Homo sapiens: one gene and its partner. The protein of the gene in region 1 interacts with the protein of each later gene in a pairwise test. Each region holds a gene or a part of one and is shown in the gene's direction. Other genes may lie near its edges. The genes, in order: GINS2 and DCLRE1B.

Region 1 (3,500 bases):
TGAAAAGACCCTGAGTGATTTTTTTTTTTTCTTTTTATGGAGATGGGGTCTCAGCCGTGAGTGATTTTGACTGCCCCCTCCTTACTGGGACTTATTGGGGGTACCTACCTCCTAGAAGCAAGAGCTCATTGAGCCAGCCACTCTGGGGTCCGTTTAAGACAGACTGCTTAGTGTCTTCCCCTTGCTCCCTGTCCTAAAGTGGCAAGTGACTCAGGTAGTCCTGAAACATAATGGGAAACCCCAGTTCCTCTGCTTTGAGACGGTTTTTTTTTTTTTTTTTTTTTGAGAAAGGGTCTTGCTCTGTCACCCAGGCTGGGCTATAGTGATGCAATCATAGCTCACTGCAGCCTTGACTTCCCAGCCTCAAGTCATCCTCCTGCTTCAGCTTCCGGAGTAGCTGAGACTACAGGTGTGCACCATCATGCCTGACTAATTTTTTGATTTTTTTTTTTTAGTGGAGATGGGGGTCTTGCTATGTTGCCCAGGCTGGTGTCAAACTTCTGGGCTCCAGTGATCCTCTCAGAGTGCTGGGATTACAGATGTGAGCTGTTGCCCCTGGCCGGAAGGCTTTTGTAGAGGAGAGGCTCACCAGGCCTGGCTCCATTAATGCAGCATCCTCTCCAGGCCCCTTGTTTAAAATCAGTGTCTGGCACTTTTGTCCCATCTAGACCCCAGGTGATAACATGGCAAGGGCCTGTTTTATCGCAGGCTAGAGTCAGAAGGTGTGGAGAGTTCCCCTTGAACTTTTTACCTGGGCTGGAGCCATATTGTGGGAACAGTGAGGCACCATTAACCTGTCTATAGACCCTACCCAACAGCCTGCTGCCTCCTGACTTCTGCACCACAGATAAGTTCTGCCTGTTCTGGGCCAGGCGCGGTGGCTCATGCCTGTAATCCCAGCACTTTGGGAGGCCGAGATGGGTGGATCACCTGAGGTCAGGAGTTCAAGACCAGCCTGGCCAACATGGTGAAACCCTGTCTCTACTAAAAAATACAAAAATTAGCTGGGTGTTTGGTGGGCGCCTGTAATCCCAGCTACTTGGGAGGCTGAGGCAGGGAGAATTGCTTGAATCCAGGAGGTGGAAGTTGCAGTGAGCTGAGATCGCGCCACTGTACTCCAGCCTGGGAGATACAGCGAGACTCCATCTCAGGAAAACAAATCCAGTTCTGCCTGTTCTGGGACTTCATGTAAATGGAATAATCTAGTATGTCATTTTTTGTTTCTGATTTCTCTTATCCAACACTGTTTTTGAGATTTACCTGTTTACGTTCTCAACACCGGGACACAGAGCTCAGCTCCCAACCCCTTTCTCCACTACTGAAACTCATATTCACACCACCTGGCTATGTTCTTTCATTGCTGGGTACTCTCCATACTACATATTTGTTCACCGATTCTTCTGTTGGTAGATATTTGGGATTCCCCTTTTTGGCTTTAACAAAAAATTTAGAGACAGGGATTTCTCTGTTGCCCAGGCTGAATTGCAGTGGTTATTCAAAGGTGTGATCATAGTGAATTGCAGCCTCCAACTCCTGGGCTCGAGTGATCCTCCCATCTCAGCCTCCCTAGTAGCTGGGACTACAGGTGTGCATCAATGTGCCCAGCTCATTTTTGGCTTTTGAGACAGTCTCTCGCTCTGATGTCCAGGCTGGAGTGCAGTGGCGTGATCATGGCTCACTGCAACCTCCACCTCCTGGGCTCAAGCGATCCTCCCACTTCTGCTTCTTGAGTAACTGGGAATACAGGTGTATACCATCACATTCAGCTAATTTTTATAGAGACAGGGTTTCACTTTGTTGCTCAGACTGGTTTTGAACTCCGGGGCTTCCACCTCGGTCTCCCAAAGTGCTGGGATTACAAGTGTGAGCCACTGTGCCTGGCTCATTTTTGGCTATTCTTAATAAGGCTTTTGTGAATATTCTTGTCCACGTCTTTTCATGGATATGTTTCTTTTTCCCTTGGGTAAATAAATACCTAGAATGATGGACTTGCTGGATCTCAGGGATAATGCTTAACTTTGTAAGAAACGGCCACCTGGTCCTTCAAAGCAGCTGAGCCTTTATCCTACAAGAAATATGAGTTCCCATTGTTCCATGTCCTGGCCAAAAATTTTGACTGTAGCTTTTTTATTTGCTAGAAAGTTGGACCAGAGGTGTTTCATAAGCTGATTCAGATGTTAATGAAAGGATCACTCTGCTGTGTAGAGAAGGTTGGTGCAATAGGAGCAGGGAATGAATCCAGGCAAGCACTGAGAGTGGCCTCTGGCTGATGGAGGTGGGAGATGTGGTAGGTGTCTAGGTGTGTTTTGAAGGAAGCAGCAGCAGGATTGGCTGAAGGACTGGCCATGGGGTGTGAGGGAGAAGAGTGAAAGCTGACAGCCAGGCTCTTGGCTGGAGGCCCAGGAGAGGGAGTTGCTGTCTCCTGAGGTGGGAGGCTGCAGGAGCAGGCTGTGGGCTGCAGTGGGTATCAGGAGTTGGGGGTTTGAACTGTTGTGCTTTCTGGATATCCAGGAGGAAGTTACAGCAGCAATGAGGTTATTGAGTTAGGAGTTAGAGCTCAGGGGCTGATGGGGGTATAAATTTGGAGGTCTTTCTGAGCATGTGGGTAGCATTTGGACGAGGTGGTGTGGATATGAGTTTAGGTAGTGAAGAAAGGGGTTGGGAGCTGAGCTCTTTGTCCCAGTGTCGAGAGGTCAGGAGGAATTGCCAGGAGACAAAAAGGGGAGCCTAGTGAGTTCATAAGCAAGCTCAGAGGGGTGTTCACGGAGGGCCTTCTTTTTAAGGCTATATCTATTAGTGTGTTTGGGAGGATCAAGCAAGGAGGGGACAGTGATCATTTAAGAGCATGAGAGCTGCTGGAGTGCCTTACTGTGCAGGTGAGAGGAGGGTCCAGGACACCTGGAAGGCTGGTCCTCGAGTGGGTAGGAGCTACACAGGGAGTTTGGGGGATGGGGTGGTGTGTGGGTCACACTCAGCTGGGTGTCAGGTGAGAGGTGGGTGGTGGGTTGAGGCGGTGCTGGCGGCAGTGAAGAGAGGGTGAGTAGACCAAGGAATTGGGCCAGGATTGCAGGACGGCACCAAGGGCCCTGGGGATGGGTAGTTGGCCGTTTACAATGGGACCCTGCAGCGTAGCTGTGCTCCGTGCTTGTCCCTTAGCTATAGTACACAGTCTGCTCCCAGGACAGGTTTCTCTGTAGAGGGGGAGGGCTGAGGGAGCTGGAGCATGTGTGAGAACAGTGCTGATGCTGGTGGAATTGGATACAGCTGTTTGATTCTAGACGCTGGGCTTTCACCCCTCTAGGATGTCATGCCTCCTCCCGGCTGGGGTGGCTTAGCCCTCTAGGATATTGTATCGTGCCCAGGCTGGGGTGGCTTAACCCCTAGGATATTGTATCGCGCCCAGGCCAGGGTGGCTTAACCCCCCTAGGATATTGTATCACGCCCAGGCTGGGGTGGCTTAGCCCCTAGGATATTGTATCACGCCCAGGCTGGGGTGGCTT
Region 2 (3,654 bases), on another chromosome or scaffold:
TTGTGAAGAGTAATTGAAAAATAGGAGTAGGATGGAGACATTACAACAAAGAAACCATGCAGCTATACTGCCTAGTTCAGTGCCAGGCTACATAATAGTTTTTTCACAGACTAGTAAGCAAACGCCTGTCTATTGTTGGAGGTAGGAGAGGCTTGTCTTCTATTCTTTTGTCTCTGACCTTCTGCCCCCATGTACATATTCCTCCAGGTGATTTTCGATACACACCATCCATGCTAAAGGAGCCAGCCCTGACACTGGGGAAACAGATCCATACTTTATACCTAGACAACACCAATTGCAATCCAGCCCTGGTTCTTCCTTCCCGACAAGAAGCTGCCCACCAGATTGTCCAGCTCATTCGAAAACACCCACAACATAACATAAAGATTGGTGAGTTGTTTCCTTTCAGTTTCCTGTCACCTGTAGATAGTGAACTAGATTCTTTAAGGATTCTCACATCTTTCAGATCTTTGTGCAGTTCTCACTTTCTCCTACACTGACCACCTTATTTAAAATTGCAACCTGGCTAGGTGTGGTGGTTCATGCCTATAATCCCAGCACTTTGGGAGGCCAAGATGGGAGGGTCATTTGAGCCCAGGCGTTTGAGACCAGCTTGGGCAACATGGCAAGACCCTGTCTCTACAAAAAATTTAAAAATCAGTTGGGCACGATGGTGCGTGCCTGTGGTCCCAGCTACACAGGGGACTGAGACAGGAGGATTGCCTGGGTCCAGTAGGAGGTCAAGGTTGCAGTGAGCCATGTAAGTGCCATTGCACTCCAGCCTGGATGACAGAGCAAGACCCTGTCTCAATAAATGAATGAATGAATGAAATAAGTAAAACTGCAACCTGCCCACCATCCCCATTCCCAACTCCTGATCATCCATACCAATTCATTTTTTTCATTTTTTTATAGCACTCATATACTATATATATTTTTAAATATGCTATTGCTTACTTGTTGTCTATCATGCACTTCCTCTGGCCCATGCACATACGCGTGCACACACACACACACACAAGCATAAACTCCTTAAGAGCATCACTGGAAATGGGAAGAGACTTTGTGTGTTTGTGGAACAGAGAAGCAGCAGTCAGTATGACAGGCACACAGTGGGCAAGGAGGCTGAAAAGGCAAGAGGGGCTGAAGTGCTGTTAAGCCATTTTGGACTTGATCCTAAACCCAACCAAGAGCTATTGAAGGATTTTAAGTAGAAGAGGGACAATATGCACTCATCACCTTGCAATATATTCTATAATTTATGTATTTATTGGACTTTTTATTGTCTGATTCCCCCTGCTAGAATGTGAATTCCACTATGGCAGTCTCTGTTTTATTATGGGTGTATCACAAATGCCTACACTAATGCCTGACACAGAAGCATTCAATATGAATGAATGAAATTTATCAGAACATAGATATTTAAGTGAGCGTTGTGCTTTAAATTAAGTATACTGAAAAAACAGGTTTGTGCTTGTTGTACTGATTATAAATAGTATAAAACATTGTTGAGGACTCTTTCTTGGAGTTGCCATTTGGAATAGTTTATGAAAATACATTTTTGTTTTATAAAATAAATAAATGTAATAGATTTGGTTCTAAATTACTTTTTTGGTTGTTTCCAAATTTGTGAGTCTACAAAAGGACAAAGACTTGCCACCATTATAAATATTTGAAAAGGACATGTCTCAACTCTGAAAGGAGTTTCAAAATGAGACTAAACAAAGGCATTGAAAAAATTATATAACTTCCAGGGTGACTACCAAATCGATTGAGAAATATCCTCTACTCTCAGGATTGCTTAGCTACTTATAAAGACCTAACCATTCTTAATATTTTAATGCAGAATTTTCTCAAAAAAGCAAAGCTGGCTAGGAGGATGCTATAGTAAGCCTTAATTAATTTTGCAAATATGTAATAAGCCTCTACCCACTAAGTACCAAGTATCCAATAGGCAGTGGGGATATAAAGATGAATAAAATATAGTCTCTGACTTGGAGGGCTCACAGTCTGGTAGGGAAGGACCTGTGGGGAGGTGGAAGTGGGAATATATATAGAGAGAAGAAAAATCCGCTCCATTTGTGCCCAAGGAGTGAGATTTTGAACCATAATCAGGAATAAAGTGGATATAAATAATATATACTTCTTTTTATGGCGTTCACAATCTGGTTGTGGATTTGAAACTTCTTCAGAAAAAGTCTGAGAACAGCTATTAAACAACATCTCCCATATCTGTTACCATAACCATTTCCCAAATTAATGTCTCCATTTCTTTCTCTGTAAGTACTATTTGGGCCCTTCAATTGAAACTTCCACTCCAGCTTCTTCTCATCCTGGCAGTCAAATAATATTATTACCATATTTTTCTTTTTAAAGCCCTGCTCTGAGCATATTATTCTTATGATTAGAATTAGCCATTTTCCTGCTTCACACTCAGTGGCTCCCCTTCACTTACACAATGAAGTCCAAGCTTCTTAGCGGTACATATAAGACGCTCTATTATATGGCCCTTGCTTGCCTCTCTGGTATCATTTCTTATCAATTCCTTTTTTACTTTAGTAACAGCAAACTGACCCCTCTTAAAATGTTTTCCACTATACCCTTTCTACCCTTTCCTTGCCAGGTTAACCTTGCCCATCCTTTAAGATTTAGCCTAACGTTCCCTAACTCCATCACCTGTTAGATACAATACTGTATACTTTTTTTGTTTTTTTTTAAGAGACAGGGTCTCACTCTGTTGCCCAGGCTGGAGGGTAGTGGCATGATCACAGCTCACTGCAGCCTGGACCTCCCGGACTCAAGTGATCCTCCCGCGTCAGCTTCCTGTGTACCAGGAACTATAGGCGTGCACCAACATGCTTATTTGTTTATTTTTGTAGAGACAGGGTCTTGCCAGGTTGCCCAGGTTGGTCTTGAACTCCTGGGCTCAAGCAATCCTCCTGCCTCAGCCTCCTAAAATTGTAGGCTTACAGGTGTGAGCCACAGTGCCCGGCCTGTACACATATCTTTAACGTTGCTCTTAATTGTGGTTTTTCTGGGTCTCCTTGTAGATAGTACTTCTTGAGGACTGACAGTTTTCTTTATTAGTTTTCATGGTGCCTGAAACTTGCTAGATGCTCTCTTTTGTTGAACTAAATGAATGAGTGGATTCTGTGTCATTCCCTTTCATATGTCTTAGCTCAAATGCCACCTCTTCCTTGATATTCTCCCTGGATTTCTCCATGAATTGTATCTATTTTTGTTAAACATTTTGTTGATTTATTAGGATTTTCCAATAGCTTAATTTTCTTCCTTCTCTTACTTTCCCCAATACATTGAACATTATTTAGGACTCTACAGCCTGGGAAAGGAATCACTGCTGGAGCAGCTGGCCCTGGAGTTTCAGACCTGGGTGGTATTGAGTCCTCGGCGCCTGGAGTTGGTACAGCTACTGGGCCTGGCAGATGTGTTCACAGTGGAGGAGAAGGCTGGCCGCATCCATGCAGTAGACCATATGGAGATCTGCCATTCCAACATGCTGCGTTGGAACCAGACCCACCCTACGATTGCTATCCTTCCCACAAGCCGAAAAATCCACAGCTCCCACCCTGATATCCACGTCATCCCTTACTCTGACCATTCCTCTTACTCCGAGCTTCGTGCCTTTGTCGCAGC

Evidence for each region.
Region 2: the proteins of GINS2 (region 1) and DCLRE1B interact in a two-hybrid assay, tested with the Homo sapiens proteins (one study listed by BioGRID).

Annotation. Positions count from the first base shown.
Region 1 is NC_000016.10:85,682,455-85,685,954, reverse strand, and holds part of GINS2 (DNA replication complex GINS protein PSF2), read left to right. Parts: intron 1-3,500. UniProt on the Homo sapiens protein: Required for correct functioning of the GINS complex, a complex that plays an essential role in the initiation of DNA replication, and progression of DNA replication forks.
Region 2 is NC_000001.11:113,907,802-113,911,455, forward strand, and holds part of DCLRE1B (5' exonuclease Apollo), read left to right. Parts: intron 1-207; coding exon 208-390; intron 391-3,329; coding exon 3,330-3,654.